Regions from separate parts of the Homo sapiens genome. Here region 2 is linked to region 1. The links come from fine-mapping of genetic effects on gene expression. Tissue or cell type: whole blood. Region 1 holds a variant in brackets; the other region holds the start of a gene. All regions are shown on one strand. Distances are between the middles of the regions.

Evidence for each region. PIP is the estimated chance that this variant, and not a neighbour inherited with it, causes the effect.
Region 2: it holds the start of TTC21A, and the variant in region 1 is fine-mapped to the expression of TTC21A in whole blood (INTERVAL, PIP 0.93).

What each region holds. Positions count from the first base shown.
Region 1 is chr3:38,903,239-38,911,342 of GRCh38, reverse strand. SCN11A (sodium voltage-gated channel alpha subunit 11) reads left to right here. Exons shown (of 30, transcript NM_001349253.2): 12 at 1,136-1,277; 13 at 2,149-2,346; 14 at 3,221-3,394; 15 at 6,022-6,151; 16 at 7,240-7,478. Among named protein-coding and RNA genes, the nearest start is that of SCN10A, 91 kb to the right of the region's middle. The variant G/T (reference allele first, on the strand shown) is at 3,993.
Region 2 is chr3:39,104,478-39,112,581 of GRCh38, reverse strand. It overlaps TTC21A (tetratricopeptide repeat domain 21A), which reads right to left and starts at 4,902. Exons shown (of 29, transcript NM_001366900.1): 1 at 4,718-4,902; 2 at 3,368-3,497; 3 at 2,443-2,553; 4 at 1,565-1,731; 5 at 2-124. The coding sequence starts at 4,744. It overlaps GORASP1 (golgi reassembly stacking protein 1), which reads left to right and starts at 4,955. Exons shown (of 9, transcript NM_031899.4): 1 at 4,955-5,103. The coding sequence starts at 5,041. RefSeq lists a silencer at 5,006-5,325.

The DNA.
Region 1 (8,104 bases):
GCTTTCATATTGCTAAGGAAAAACTTCCAACTCAGAATTCTATTTCTGGCCAAACTACCAATTGATTGTGAAAATGGAATAAATATATATTCATATATGCAAAGATTACACAATCTTCTTAAGAAGCTAATTGACAAGTGCTCCAGAAGAATGAGGGAGTAAAACATAAAAAAGCAACATGAAAAAGCCAAGAAAAAATGTCTACCATAGCAAGAAGTTAATCAACACGAACTACAATTGATAAATCAAATATCAGTGTAAGCACTATTTAGATATACGGAGGTAGAAGAGTTAACAGTTGTTGAATTTGGGGTGTATAAATGACAGTTAAAGAATTATACAATTGATTTCATTATAAGCTTTTTGGTGCATGTAATTTTTAAGCCATGTGCATGTATTACTTTGATTAAAATACTATTTATTAAAAAACTAAGAAATACATACCCTTAGTACATCTTATAGATACACTCAATAATTTGTGTTTTGGTAATATGTGAAAAGACCTATGTTCAAAGATATTCATTGCCCAAATGTTTGTAAGAGTGAAGGACTGTCAATTACTGAAACCTAAATATTCATCATTAGCAGAGCAGTTAAATAAATCATAGAACTATAGACATGAAAAGAAATAAGATATCTCCCTGTATGGTGATATGAAAAGAGCTCTGAACTATATTGTTCCATTAAAAAAAGCAAGGTGCAGGAGAGTGCAAAGCATGTTCCCATTTTTGTGTATTATAAAAGTTGTGTGTAGATATAGATGTGCTGTATAGTCATAGCAAACTTCTGGAAATTTACAAAAGTAACTGTTAACTATTGCCTCTAAGAAGTGGGATCAGGAAACTGGGAAGAGAGGAAGACTTAATATTCATTGTATGTGCTTTTATACTATTCATTGTTCACGTGTCACTGTACTCAATTTTTCAATGAAAAACTATCTTATATGAATTTATTAATCAGTTCATTAGCAAAAGAGTCTTGTCAGACAGTGCAGTGGGCCACTTTACAAATACTCCCTTCCTCTAGGGCTCCTGGTGTGATCCCACAGCCCTTGGAAAAACCAGAGTCGTTGGAAGGAAAAAGAAGCTTGGCTGTGGCGTACATAATTATTTCTCTGTTTGTTTCCAATATCTAGTGCCTGTTCCATACAATATGAATGTAAGCACACCAAAATTAATCCTGACTATAATTATACGAATTTTGACAACTTTGGCTGGTCTTTTCTTGCCATGTTCCGGCTGATGACCCAAGATTCCTGGGAGAAGCTTTATCAACAGGTTATCTATTTATAGTCTCTCTTTTTCCTCTCTCCCTCCCTCCATCCTTTTCCTTCCCCCTCTATCACTTACCTATTTATTTACCATTTATTTATAACTACCATTCATCCCCCACTTTTATCATCTGTCTCATCTTTAACAGTTGTACTGTTAAATTCTGCCTTACTAATTCTGTTAGAAACTTCAAGAAAATTGGCCAGGCACGCTGACTCCCGCCTGTAATCCTAGCACTTTGGAAGGCTGAGGCTTGAGGTCAGGAGTTTGAGACCAGCCTGGCCAACATGGTGAAACCCCAACTCTACTAAAAATACAAAAATTAGCAGGGCATGGTGACAGGTGCCTGTAATCCCCACTACTTGGAAAGATGAGGCAGGAGAATCACTTGAACCTAGGAGGCGGAGGTTGCAATGAGCCGAGATCACACCACTGCACTCCAGCCTGGGTGATAGAGTGAAACTCCGTCTCAAAAAAAAAAAAAAAAAGAAACTTCAAGAAAATTTTAAATGCAATATTTGGAAGAAGACTCCAAAGAACCCCTCCTCTTCCTAGAAATGTTAGCCCCCTCCAGATTCCCTACTGCCCTATCTCTCTTGCCACTTTTATTTTAAAAATGCAGATACTCTTGAGAGAGTTATAGATAGTAAAGTCACTGAAACTTCCATGTGAAGGTGTGGATAGTATCTCCCCACTGAGAGATAGGGCATCAGGAATCCCTGGAGTATTAGGGAAGCTATATGGTCTGTGGTCAACTGAGCCCACCAGTGCTGGGGGAAGACCAGTTGTCTGCTACTGTGTGGTTTTTGCTTGAGGTGATGGTCACTTTCCTGTGGAAGAAGGTTTGATATTCAAGAACATGCTCTGTCCTTTGCAGACCCTGCGTACTACTGGGCTCTACTCAGTCTTCTTCTTCATTGTGGTCATTTTCCTGGGCTCCTTCTACCTGATTAACTTAACCCTGGCTGTTGTTACCATGGCATATGAGGAGCAGAACAAGAATGTAGCTGCAGAGATAGAGGCCAAGGAAAAGATGTTTCAGGAAGCCCAGCAGCTGTTAAAGGAGGAAAAGGAGGTAGGGACATGGGGTCAGACAGTGGGATCTGCTCTGGGGAGGGGAAGGGGTCCCCAGAGGCAATGTGACCTGAGACTCAAGGCTGCCACCCTTGGCCTGGTCTCAGTGCTTTCTCTACTGGTGCTTTTCTGAGAATATAAGTCCCTCGAAGAATGGCTGTGCTGCTATCTTTCACAAAATTGTCCAGGCACCAGGCCCTTCAAAACGGGGAACGCTTGGTCTTGATGCTTTTTGACCTTCTGAAGTCTAAGCCTTCTAAGACATGCCCTAAATTACTGACTAGACGATACAACATAAGTATATGTAAATCCAGGCTGTGCTCCAGGCTTTCTTTTGGAAATCTGGAGATGTTTGTGTTCGGCGCCTTTGCTTGAGGTGGACTCTAGAATAATGTTCACCTCTCCCTGTCTGCAATCCTTGTCTTATTTATAGGCCATTCTAATAGTTTCCTTGGAATCTTTACATTCTTCCAGCTCAAGTCTCAGATTTTCAGGACAGGGACCATGTTTTATACTCGCACTGATCCTCTATAAGATTTGTCAGAAGGATGCCCATCGTAAGTGCTTAACATCTGCACTATCAGGCATAAGTATTTATTGAGTGCCTAGCGCATACTGGACACTGTGCTAAGGGGCAGTGACACAGAGATATGAAAGAGTCAATGCTGCTTTTGGTGGCTGCAATTTCTGTGCAAAAACAGGACATGTTTCCCCAGATAAATAACAGAGCTAGCGTAGTCCAGGTAGATGATGAGCAATTTAAATGATACAGAGCTACCAGAAGAGAGATTTTCACCACTCTCAGGTCGGGGTCATTTGCAATGTTTCATGAGGAGGTGTAATCTGTTCTTTAATTGCTTTTGTTCAATTTGAAGGCTCTGGTTGCCATGGGAATTGACAGAAGTTCACTTACTTCCCTTGAAACATCATATTTTACCCCAAAAAAGAGAAAGCTCTTTGGTAATAAGAAAAGGAAGTCCTTCTTTTTGAGAGAGTCTGGGAAAGACCAGCCTCCTGGGTCAGATTCTGATGAAGATTGCCAAAAAAAGGTAAGTCTTTTCCAGGGAATTAATGATACCATATTGCTGTCCAGGGGGACAGGTCCAATTGCCAATCAAATTGAAATAATTCATTTATTCAGTTACTCATTTATTCATTCATCCATTTGCACATACTTTCATGCATCCATGTGTCTTTTCAATTATCCATTTATTTGTAAACATCAATTTAGAGTGTTTACAGTGTTTACTATCTTCTTGGCACTGGGATAGGTGCTAGGGATACATGTTTTATACTCCACAGAGTGTACGGCTAATGATGAAGATATACTGATAAGAAGGCAGTTATGAGTCAGTGTGATGACTGATGTGCTGATTGCTGTGGGAGAACAGAGGAGGAACTATGTGTCAGTGTGGGCTCCCTCTGAAGCAAACCCAAAGACATTACAATGCAAGTAGATTATTTGGGAAGTGATCCCAGGAAGCACTGGGAAAGGAGGGAAGAAGTGCTATATGGAATGGAAGGTAACCAATGAAGATGCATTATCAAGCCAGTTACCACTGAAGCCAGGTAGTTGGAGTTTAATCCTTCCAAAGTAAGGGCATCAAAGTGTGTGTGTGTGTGTGTGTGTGTGTGTGTGTATATATA[G/T]ATATATACACACACACACACACACACACACACACACACATATATGTTGGTATATATATACCAACTTTGGACCATCATAGATTAAAGATTGCTGAAGACAGAAGACAATAATTTCCCTCTAATTTCCTACTTGCTGTGCACTAAGGAAGACAGGATTTGAATCATTAGAGAAAGTCCTCAAGTAAGGACATATGGGTGGGAAAACCAACAGCATCCAGAATTCATGGGGCCTGGGGGAAAAGCAATGGAAAAGGGTCCCCAGAAGATGCAGTGTGTCAGCTGAAAGGATGAATTCACCAGTAAAAGGAAAAAGAGAGCATTACCTGCAGAGAGAATAGAATGTGCAAAAGCCTAGAAGCGAAGGCAAGCAGGAGAACATGACCCATTAGAAAACTTGCCAGTGTGTGTGTATGCGCGTGCACGCACGCTCATGCATGCACATGTGTGATGAGGCTGGGGGAGGGTGGGTGGCACAAGGCTATAGTGATCAGTTGGGGGATCACAAAAGACCTCGAAAACAAAGCTAGAGAGTTTACCCTTTTCAATGAGGGCTAAGGGTAAAGAGCATTGAAAGGTTTATATAAGAGAGGGATATGACTGGATTTATGAAATTCTGGATGCATTGAAGACAGGGGATTGGAGGAGGGCAAAACTGGAGGCGACCAGTTAAGAGGCTGTTGCAGTAACCAAGTAAGAGGTGCCTGTGGCTTAAACCAGGGTTAGGGAAGTGAGGATGAAGAGCAATTAACAGACGACCGTGATCTGGAGAAGATAAAATTTAGCAGTTGACTTGATGGACAGTGTGGGGATAAGACCTGGTTTCCGACATGATTAGCTAACTTGATGGAGGGTAATTTATGGAGACAGGAAAGGTACACATTTTGGGAGTGGAAAGATGGCTCATTCAGTTTTGAATGTGCCAATTTCCAGATGCTTATGGGACCTCCAAGCAGGGATGTTGATTAGGCAGCGTGATGTGCAGAAATGAAGCTGGTGGTGGGGGAGGGATGGGCAGCAGAAAAAGTTATTCTTATCATTAAGGAGGGGGATGTTCAGACATATTTTAATTGTCCAGAGAAAAGTCAGAAGAGAGGAAGATGCTAAAGATACAGGTAAAGATGGCAAGAGCCACTTTCCTGAGATAGAGGGAGATGTAGTAGGTAGAAGGTGGATATGTATGCCTGATAATGTGGTGGGGAAAGGGAATTGAGAGGCCTTTGCAGAAGTAGGTAGAAGGATCCCATCCACTGCTATGATCAGTTCTCTGCTGTAGTAATAGGGAGAGATCTCATAGAAAGACTATCTAGATTGGCTTATCACAAAAAAGATAGTTCCCTCTGGGGCTCTGGTGAGTCGGAACCCTTGGAAAATAAGCCACTAGGAAAACCCAAATTTTCTGGATAGCTGGAGGTTTGCACTGTTTAATTCCAGTAACTTTAGAATTGTAGGTAGATGTGAGAGAGTGAGCTAGCCCTTGGGCCCAGCTTGAGAGTGTGTTTGAGGTTTAGGATCTAGATTTTGTGATATTTAGTGGGACTGTTCTTTTTAGTTACCAACCGTTTTAAAAACCGTATAGGCGGTTGTTCACTTCACAACTGCAGCTAGCACTTCACAATCTGGCTCCAGTCCACCTTTCTAAATTTATACTCCACTTCTTACCTTTAAACATTGTTTACAAATTGGATTTTGTATTGCTTTCATACCCGGAACCATTGCTTACTAGTTTTTGTAAAATTTTGTTTGCTCTTTGTTGGCAGTGAATGAAACACAGAGAAAGTAAAATGTCTGTAGGTAGGACTCTAGAAATGTGCATGCATAGGAAATATGAATGATCAAACCAGATTTCTCTTATTTGTTAAACATGAAATAAGAAAACTGAATATTTGGCATGCTGTAAAGACGAGGTGAGTAGACCTATAGAAAATGTTGAGCACTTTCATTACATGTAGCATTGGAACAAAGTAGTTTGTTAAGTTTTGAGGAGAGGCAGCCCCTGTCTTTAGAAGGTGCCCTATGCCTTCTCTTACAGCCACAGCTCCTAGAGCAAACCAAACGACTGTCCCAGAATCTATCACTGGACCACTTTGATGAGCATGGAGATCCTCTCCAAAGGCAGAGAGCACTGAGTGCTGTCAGCATCCTCACCATCACCATGAAGGGTAAGTTCCACATCCCAATCCAAGGGAAAGTCTACTTCAGTGATGTCCTTCCATTCTTCTTCTTCCCAATCCCCTAGAAGCCCTCTGCAAAGGAGGCTGTTTTGGAACCAACCCACTGTACCATCCTGCAAAGAGTGACTTCCTTTGCCTCTTTGGAGCATGTAAACAAAGTGGCTCACAAGAAGCAGACCTTCCCTGTGGGCCCACTCTAAACTGGCACCTGGGTAGAGGTGGAAGCTGGCTAGACTTGGGATGGGACTTCAGACAAAATGCATAAACAGGGCCTCAAACCAGGCCTGGGAGTCACAAGAGATCCAAGTGACAACAATAGTCAGTCAAAGAACAGAAGACTTTGAAGTCTCCAGGAGGTGGCAGTTGTTATTGAAGTTAGAGTCAGAAACCCCACATGGGCAATAGAAGACCTATGTAGAAAGGCTGGAGCCATCTGATGGACCAGATTAATAGCAGGTAACAGGACCCCACCCCAGGGGTTGGTGTTCAGGAGCAGGATTTACTCCCTGCAAGGGGGGTCAAATAGGTCCTCTAGCACTTTTAAGCCTACTGCATCATCTCGTTTGCCCTGCATGTGTCCCTGCAGCGGTGCCAGGGAAATCAGGGATGGTCTGAACTCAACTAGAGGATAGAGTCCCTTTTACTGTTTCAGTGCTTATAGATGCCCCTTCCCTTGAGCCCTGGTTGCCCCTTTTGCCTCTGTTACAGCTGACCTTATGGTCTGTCTTGAGTGGACATAACTTGTGCCTGTATCTATCTCTCTCTTGGATTCACAGCCAGCCAATGTTGATTTCCACATCTATATATCTAACATCAAAGCTCAGCTCCTGGATGCTCAGTAAGAGTGTAAATATTTGATGGACTTGACTGTACCGCATGCTAGTTGTATGTGGAACATTGTCTCTTCTGCACTAAGATTGGTGGAAAAACCTTTCTGACTACACAAATCAAAACATTTCACAACTGATCATGTATCAGGAGGCCCTGGGGAAGAGGGAGGAAGGAATGCACTCAGGCAAAGGGCATCTGGATTGCTTCAGAGCTAACTCCTCAACCTCTCGCTCATTCTCCTCCAGAACAAGAAAAATCACAAGAGCCTTGTCTCCCTTGTGGAGAAAACCTGGCATCCAAGTACCTCGTGTGGAACTGTTGCCCCCAGTGGCTGTGCGTTAAGAAGGTCCTGAGAACTGTGATGACTGACCCGTTTACTGAGCTGGCCATCACCATCTGCATCATCATCAACACTGTCTTCTTGGCCATGGAGCATCACAAGATGGAGGCCAGTTTTGAGAAGATGTTGAATATAGGGAATTTGGTAACATTACACTTTTTAAAAATAAAAAACATATTTCATACTTTAAAGTATAACTTTTTCAAAGTCTAAACATTTTGTGAATGAGCTAACCTAACCTAGGTTTTTGGTCCCCTTCAGTGGAGTGAGGGAAAAGATGGCTGTTACGGTTTTACTTTTACCCGGTTCATTTCAGAAACTGTCCATGTGTCCTGAGTTGGCCCTCTGGTATGTTCAGGTATCTCTTTAGCCATTCAGTGGTAAGCCAGATACAAGCAGACATCCTAAAAGTTCAGCTCTCTGAGATAATCAAGAAAATGTTAACCATATCCAGAGAACCGTGGTAATGGCTGTTGTGGTCCCAGTGATATTCATGACATCATTTGTCACAAAATAATGTGACTACTATTACTAGGTGTTATTCTCCCTGGAAAGATGAATCAGGGCCTGTCAGCTGTGGAAGTTTCACTTTTTTGGAAGGGGTTGTTTGGGGGTTGGTCAGGCTGGGGTGGGGTGAATTTCCAGACTTGAGCCTGCTTCAATATGTTTCTCATTGGATAGATCTAGTCTCAGTTAAATTGGGAAAACTAAGGGGAGCAGACTTTTCAAGGACTGTTCACTTCAGTTTATGGTTCTTGTGGAAGGCATTT
Region 2 (8,104 bases), 200 kb before region 1:
CCTTTCCCATCAGCCCCAGCACATCTTTGGTGTCCTGAATTCCTTGTTCCAGGTACTCAATGGCTTTCTTCGCAGTGTGGGGCTTGTCTGAGGTCAGGTCCACCCAGCCTCTGAGCACATAGGCCTGGGATGAGAACAAGATGAAAGATGAAGTCCTTGGTCCTGCACAGAATCAACTCAGCCTGCACATGATCCACACTTTGCCACCCAAAACCCTGAGGCCCTGCCAGGCACAGTCCCGTGCAGATCCCAGGGCAGCCAGCTCTCTCTCATGGCCAGGACTCCCATTGTTGCTTTGTCTGGAAATGCCCTGGACAGCGCCCCTCCCACTCCCAACCAAACCCCTTCACCTAATGTCCATTACCACTACTTACAACTCAGCCTCAGAGGCCCCTGCTTAGGAGGCCTCCCTCCCTGTACCCCTACAGCTCTCCATGACCCTTACTGAGGCACACTCACCTATCCTGTCATTGCCTGTTTACACTGGGGTCAGGAGCCAACATGGGGGCCTACGCAAGGCCACTCTTGATGTCTCCACTCCTTAGGCCAGCACGAGGCCTGGCCCTGCATAGGAAGCCAAGGAATGCCCTCTGAGTGGGTGAGCAGGAGCCGTTCTGAGCTCGTGGACCTCGCTGGTTCCATGTTAGCCTTCACCCAGCCTCTCCAGGCAGATGGGGAGGGCCAGGCCTGGGAAGCAGACTTGGAAGAGCCCTGCCCTAAAGCACCCCTCTTGATGGCCTAGATCAGTATTTCTCTATTATAGTTCTATTTCTCTTTTTCTATTATCTATCCTAAGGAGTCTCTTTAGATACTGTTTTCTAATCAATCCCTCCCCTTCCAAGAAATGTTAGTGCCTCAGATATACCGTATCTGTGTATTGTGTACTGTATATATATCTGTGTTTTATACATAAAGAGTAAGATTTTTTTCACCCTCTCCCCCAGGGACCATGTCTACACCCTTGAAAATTGGTATCAGCCCTGCTGAGAAGGCATGGCCTAGACTGAGGCTTCAAATTCCATATTAGTGCAGATATACAGTATATGGGCTGCACTGCATGAGCCACCATTCAGTTCCAGCAGAGCATTACAGGGAGGGAATGGCCCAGTGTGGCCAGCTCATCTGGGTCTTCAAAAGAACCAGTAAGTCTGGACCAGCCTGGGCAACATGGCAAGACCCAGTCTCTACAAAAAATGTAAAAACTAGCTGGGCATGCTGGCACACACCTATGGTCCCAGCTACTTGGGGGGCTGAGGTGGAAGGATTGCTTGTGCCTAGGAGGTTGAGGCTGCAGTGAGGTCTCAAAAAAAAATTTCTTAAGAATATGGTGCAAGCCATAGAAAATCTATCTAAAGATCAGACTCTGTGTACAAATGCCAATGTGTAACCTCTGCTAAGCCCAGAGACAACACGCGTGGGGCAACTGTGAGACCCGGTGTTTTGCCAGTGCCTGGGTGTGGCTCTCCCCCAGTTTCAGGGCCCTTTGTGGGAATGAGGGCCACCCTGCTATTATGTGTTTGGATGCTGCTTTCTTCGCCTGTTGTCCCCATGGTGTGGTAAGTACCTCTCTGAAGCCTCTAGAAATCTTCAGCATGCGGTCAATGTACTCTTTGGCCTTGTCATGGCGGCCTATGAGCCAGAGGAAAAGGCCAGCATAGTACAGTGCAGTCCCACTGACTGTCTTGCGTATTTCCTTCAGGCTGTACTCAAGCTCCTGAATTGCTTCTCGGTCTGTAAATCCAAGAGCGAAGGAAGAGGGAGAGTTAGGATGTGGAAGTCTGCCTGGTTCTGCATGGGCCACCGAGGGCCCAGGGAACTACCTCGGGGTCTCCCCCAGACACTGTGGATCTCCTTCAACATATGCAGCACACCGCATGCAGCCCAAGGCCTGGAAACCAGCAGTACCTGCCCTTGAGATGCTGCAGGGGCTGCCCTGGTGTGGACTCACGTGTGCTGTCTGAGATTACCTTCTCTTCTCTGTGCCCAGCAGTGTGCTGAGCAGGCAGGCCAAACCAAAATCCTTAGCCTCAGGCCCACAACTTATTGTGAGTAGGGAAATAGTAGTCTGTAGTCTCTCTTGGACCCTCTCCCTGACTCTAGAAATGTGGAGATTAGGGGTAGAATTATATATATTGGCTTGGTTTTTCTGACAAGATCTTGGCAAAGAAGAAGGGTGTTTCCCCAACTCTTGGGATCTGGAGCATGGGCCCCTCCCACTGTCATGGGCTCTGCCTGCTTCCACTCAGTTGGGCCCAGGCATGGAGTCTTCTCCCAGGCCTCCAGGGGGAGAGGAGCAGCAGCCACTTCTCACTGGTTAACAGCATCTGCACAGCCACCAGGGCACATACCTCCTTTGGCAGCCCTTGAGGGGCTGTGTTATCTCTGGGGCAGGGCTTTCCTTCCCCTGGTGGGTCAGGCCTGGTTGAGCATGGTGGCACTCACCAATGATTTCACATCTTTTGTGAGCATAAATGAGGGCCATGGTGGAGCACAGGGACACGTCTGGGTGATGCCTGATGCTTTCCAGGTCACTGATGGCATCCTGGATGTGCTCTGCAAAGACAGTCCACATAGTTATACTCTCAAGCTCCAGGACTAGAGGACATGAGACTCTGTAGCTGACCCAACAGCTCAGCACTACTACCTGCTGGACTAACTGGTCTGAAAGGTCCCCAGTGACCCAAGTTCCCTGAAGATTGGGGCTCTTTGAAAGAGTTGCTGGTAACATGGTCCAGGCTGTTAGGGGCTGGAAATCTTGGACTTGAAAGGTTCACCCTGTGAGTACTTGTGGGGATATGTGTGAGGCTGCAATTATTAGCTGCGTCAGTTCTGAAGAAGGACCTCAGGCAGGGCATTCTCAGCTACTGCTCAAGAGCCACTGATTACATTTATCCCTCCATGTCCTCAGACATTTGGCCATGGGCTATTCTGCCAGTCCTCAGCCTAGGACCACCTTCTGAATGTCAGCCCATCTGCACCTGCATGGGTCTCACTCCTCTCCCTGTACCTGTACCATACCCACCTGTCCTCACACCTACCTCTTCCCCCTCCTTTGCCTGCATTACCAGTTCTCAGCTTCCAGGCCTGGAATTACTTCAAGAATCATGCAGCTATCTCTCCAACCACTCATTTTACAGAGAGGGAACCCGAGGTGCAGAGCAGGGATAGTCAGCGCTCTGAGGTCTCAAAAGTCAACTAGATATGGATTACGTAGGCCTCTGTGGATTCCCGTGGGAATCCAGCCGCTGAGTGTGAAACTGTTTTTATGGGACCATAACTAGGATACAAGAAGGCATCCAGGTGGAGCCAGAGTGTTAGGGCCCAGCTAGTGCCTGGGGTCACAAGACCAACACTGCCAAGTCCTTACCTTCTTTGAGGACTCCATAGGCTTTAAAGAACTTCAACACAGGGTCATTGCTGAATTTTTCCAGGCCCACAGCTGCAGCCTGCTGCACATGGTGGAAGTACTTTTCCTGGCTATAGTAAATGATCCCAGCCTGTATGAAGGAAGACATAACTGCAATAGCCCAGTCCCTTCTCTGTCTCTGTTCTGTCCCAGATGGGATGAGACCTGCTCCCTTCCCTATCCCCTGCTCCTCCTCAGTTCTGCAAAGGGAAGAGAAAGAGGAAACATTCAGGCCTCATCCTGTCCTCTAACAGCCCTGGGAGCAGCTCCATGCAGTTTTCCCAGGAAAGAGTTTGGAGGTGTTTGTTTGGGGGATTACCAACAGATTCTGGTTCAACTATGATGGGGAATTCAACCAAGGCTTTGTCTTAGGAAGGGAATAAGGGGGGAAAAATGAGGACAAATAATAAGAAAAATTATACGAATTGTAGTTACAAGTTATTGTGGGCTTCATATCCACTATCCTGTGCATGGTCCTCTCAGTATCTTTCACAGCTAAGGAAGCTTAAGCCCATGGAAACTACAGCTTGACAAAGGGGCTGAGATTTTAAAGTTAAGTTTCACTTCCTCTAAGGTTTGTGGGTGCTAGGTTGGGAGCAGATGTGGTTGGACTGTAAACATCCTCATGGGCCATATGAAAGAGCCCAGACACCATCCTAAGGGTAACAGAAAGCAGAATGGTTTTAAGGCGAGGGATGTTTTCAGATGTACATTTTTGCAACAACCACTCTGGCTGCTTTTGCATGTGGGGGGTGTGTGCCGTGGTGGCAGCAGGGACTACTGATGCTGAAAAGAGCCACAGCAGAGAAACCAGATGGGAGGGAGGCTGTTGCAGGCTCTCAGGGGGGAGAGATGGTGCTGGTTCTGGGCTAGAAGATAAAAAGATAAAAAGAAAACCCAGGAGACATCAAGGAGCTGGCATTTCTTGTAGACAGGATTAGAAGATGAGTATAGGGAAGAGGTATGAGTTAAGGCTAGGAGATTAAATGGTGAAGCCATCAACTGGGGTGGGAGGCGCAGGCGAGAGTGAGCTGGGTGGAAGAAGGGATGATGACAAGAAGGGATAATGATAGTGATTGGATGAGCTGGTTTGGGGTAGCTCAAGAAACGGGGATGCTAATTTGGGGCTCAGGGTGCGCAGAAGCCACCGGAGAAGACGCCCTTGCCAGGGGGAGTGGGGCAAGAAAAGGCAGGACCGCCTGATATAACTGAGGACAGCGAAGGGTGGCAGGAGAGTAGCAGGGCAGACGGTCTCTGGGTCAGGGGCGGGGAGTCACGAGGGAGCCCTCGGACAGCGCCCGGGCCACGCACCATAAGGGAGGAGTCATTGCTGCTCATCTCGGGCCGCTCGCGGCTCCGAGTCCGGGTCTGGTGGGGCGGTGCAGAGCGGGATTCCCGAGGCAGGGTCGTGGGCACTCTATCGCGGCGGGCGGTTGAAGGCGTTACAGTCCTTGGAAACCGAGCTGCTAGCCGGTTGCTAGGAGCGTCCAGTGTCTGGAGTGGGAGGAACAAAACGCCTCACGTCACAAGGCGCAGGAATCGAGCGCCGAGAGAGCGAGTCGGTGCTACTGGCGTCGGGTCGGTCCGGGTAGGCGCAGCGGGACTGGACCTGGGTGCCGAGCGGAGCCGCTGCCATGGGCCTGGGCGTCAGCGCTGAGCAGCCCGCAGGCGGCGCCGAGGGCTTCCACCTCCACGGGGTGAGTTGCCGCCGCGGCGCCGGTGACCTTGGCGAGGCGCCCGCAACCCCGCGCCCGGGCGTCCGGTCGCCGGCTGGCTGGCGACTGCGGCGGGGTCCCGGCCCGAGTGTTTCCGCCTGGGTGGCGGGAGGTGCCCCCTGCCCGGTGGGAGCCTCCTGGGAGAGGCGGCCTCGCGGGACTCCCGGACCCTGGCTAGTCCGCGGCCGCGGTCGGGCCCAGCGCCCGCCCCAAGTGCCAGCAGTGCCGGAAGCGGAGCGTTTTCCTGGTCCGGCCGCCGGGAATGGCGCTCCTCCCGGGTGAAGAATGCACCACTACCAGTCGGGACGCACTCGTGCACTTAGCACACATTTACGCTCGCCTGCCGCGGGCCGCTCTCCGTGCTGGGCCTGGGAAGAGAGTCAGCCACGCCGAGGACAGTCCCGGGGGCCGGGGTTAACCGAGTGGACGCAGCTGCGGGGGAGCCCGTCGGCGCGCGTCCTGCCAGTCGTAGGGTCGTAAGGGCTTCCGAGGGTAGAGGACCGGTGCAAACCAGCCACGGGATAGTGGGGAGCGGGAGGGCCGGGAGAGTGCTGCAGAATCCTCGAGGAGAGCGTTTGCAGCTGGGGAGGGTCCCAGCCTTTAGATGCCGCTACATGGAGGTCTGGGCGAGCAGGCTTCCGGAGAGTGGAGACGGAGTGGGGTTCCTAGAACGGAGTGTGCTGTGAGGGTGAGGAGAGGGTCCCGCAGCCGGATGGAGATTTGTGCCTGCGGTGAGGGAAGGGCTATAATGTAGGTGAGAGGGGCTGGGGGTCTCTGACCCCGGAGCGCTGCGGGGAAGAGGCGTCCCTGCACCCCCCCTTTCCCTAGTGAAAGGCAGCTGGATGCAGAGATGAGTGGAGACAGGCAAGCTTGTCGGTTTGTGTGTTTTGAAGGTAGGGTCTGTTGCCAGCTAACCACATGAGAGGGCTAAAAGTTTCTTAACGTGAAAACCAGGCTGGCTTGGAGAACCCAGAGTTGACAGGATTTGTGCTTGGGAATGGGCTTTCTTATGGTGAGACACCAAACAGCAAGCGTGGACAGTGGAATGCATCCAGCCAGGAGCGTCTTCCAACAGGTTTGATTAAAGGCAAAGGAACTCAGGATATTGGCAAGAGGAGGGGTGGGGCGATGATGGGAGCTTCGAAGACGGGAGGGGCCTGCCTGATGGAGAGGGACAAATTGGAGAGGGACCAGGGATCAGAGGTTGTCAGTCACAAAAACAAAGTTTTGAGCTCCTACTCTGGCAGGCAGAATTCTAAGGCTCTAGAGATAAAGCAGTGAACAGAACAAACATGGTCCCTGTTCTGGAGCTGACATTTGGATGATGGTAGGGAAAGAAGGGAAATGAAAAAATACATGGTAGGTGGTAATTACCAGTGATAAAAATAAAGCAGGTTAAGGGGATACAGAATGGTGAGTGGGTGCTATTTTTGATAGAGTGGTCAGGAAGGGCCTCTTCTCAAGTCACATTCGAACAGATGCTTCTGAAGGAAGTAAAGAGTGGACAATACAGATATTTAGGGGAATAGTAGTATTCCAGGCAGAAGGACCAGCTTGTGCAGAGGCCCCGAGGTAGGTTGTGCTTGTGTGTTTGAGGAAATGCCAGGTGAGGCTGGTGTGCTTGGATGGTGTGGCCAGTGTGAGGAGGAGACCAGAGCAGACCGTGTAGGACCTTGCCTGTTGTCCTGAAGATTTAAGATTTTATTCTGAGATGTAAAACCATCAGGAGGTTTTAAATGGAGGAGTGACATGACCTACTTACCTTTAACAACACTGAAGAACAGCTGTGCTGCATTCTAGAAATATTGGCACCTCGCTGCGTGCCCAATACTTTGGAGAAGTCGCTGCCCTCAGCGAGCTTAGAGTAGTGGCAGATTCACCAGGAAACAGCTGTTAGGAGAGGGCAGTGGTTAGGGGGAGGGCTCTGGGTTGGATTTCCTGGGGTCAAATTACTGAATTATTGAGTACTTGGTCTCATTTGTCATTTGAGGTTATTAAAAAGGTTAAATGACACATAAAGCAGGTGAGGTGGTGCCATGCCCTGGCACTCAGCCAACCAGCCCTTAGTAAGTGTAAGTTGTGATCACTGTGAGTTCCATTAGGTTCCCTGATTGGGAAAAATAGGGTGGGAGCATGAGGAAAAGCAGCACTATAGGGCCTTGGGGCAGGCTGTGATGGGAGCCCCTGAGGGAGCTGGATGGCAGGCAGTGGTTTCTGCAGGGGGAGCCGTACAGTGGGCAGCAGCATAGATTATTTCAGCTGCGGAGCCATAGTGAGTAGTGATGAGGCCCCAGGTGAGAGAAGTGGAGTGTAGCCAAGCAGAGGACAAAGCCACAGGAGAGGGTGGTGGAGGTATTGGGTGGGTCAAGGAGGCCAGGCCTGGGGCCTGACCCTCTGGACCTCATTCATGATGGAGAGCAGCTGACATGCAATACTGGGGAGTGGGGAGGGAAGTAGGCAGGCACCTGACGTGGAGTGATTTGGAGGTGGCCCTGATTAGGGAGGGGCATTGTCCCCAAGCTATTCCTGAATAACTGTCCTGTCCTGTGGTTTTCGAAAGATCCCCTCACCTGAAGGGTTAGAGGGCAGGGCCCAGAGCTCCCCTGCAGCGGGGCCTGGGAGCAGCTTGCCTACTGGGCCAGGCCAACTAGGCCCAGATCTGATTTCTGGGCCGCACTCACTCCCTTTGGAAGCCATGGCAGCTTCTGGAGGTGATAAGGAGGGGCTCAGTTGGTGATGCTGCCAGAAGGGAATCCTAATTCCAGGGGCAAACTGGCCTTGATCTCAGCGGTTTGTTCTCAGCCTAGTCTTCATGAGCTCTCCTTCAGGTTGGGGAATCCAAACCTGGAGGGGCTGGTATGTAGCAGGAGCCACAGGGCCTTTCCCATGAGGAGGCAGCAAGAGCCTAGGTCCTGTGCCCTCTGGGCTGGGTCTGGCTGGTGTCTACGCCAACAGGTTATCAAATGCCCGCAGCCAAAGACCT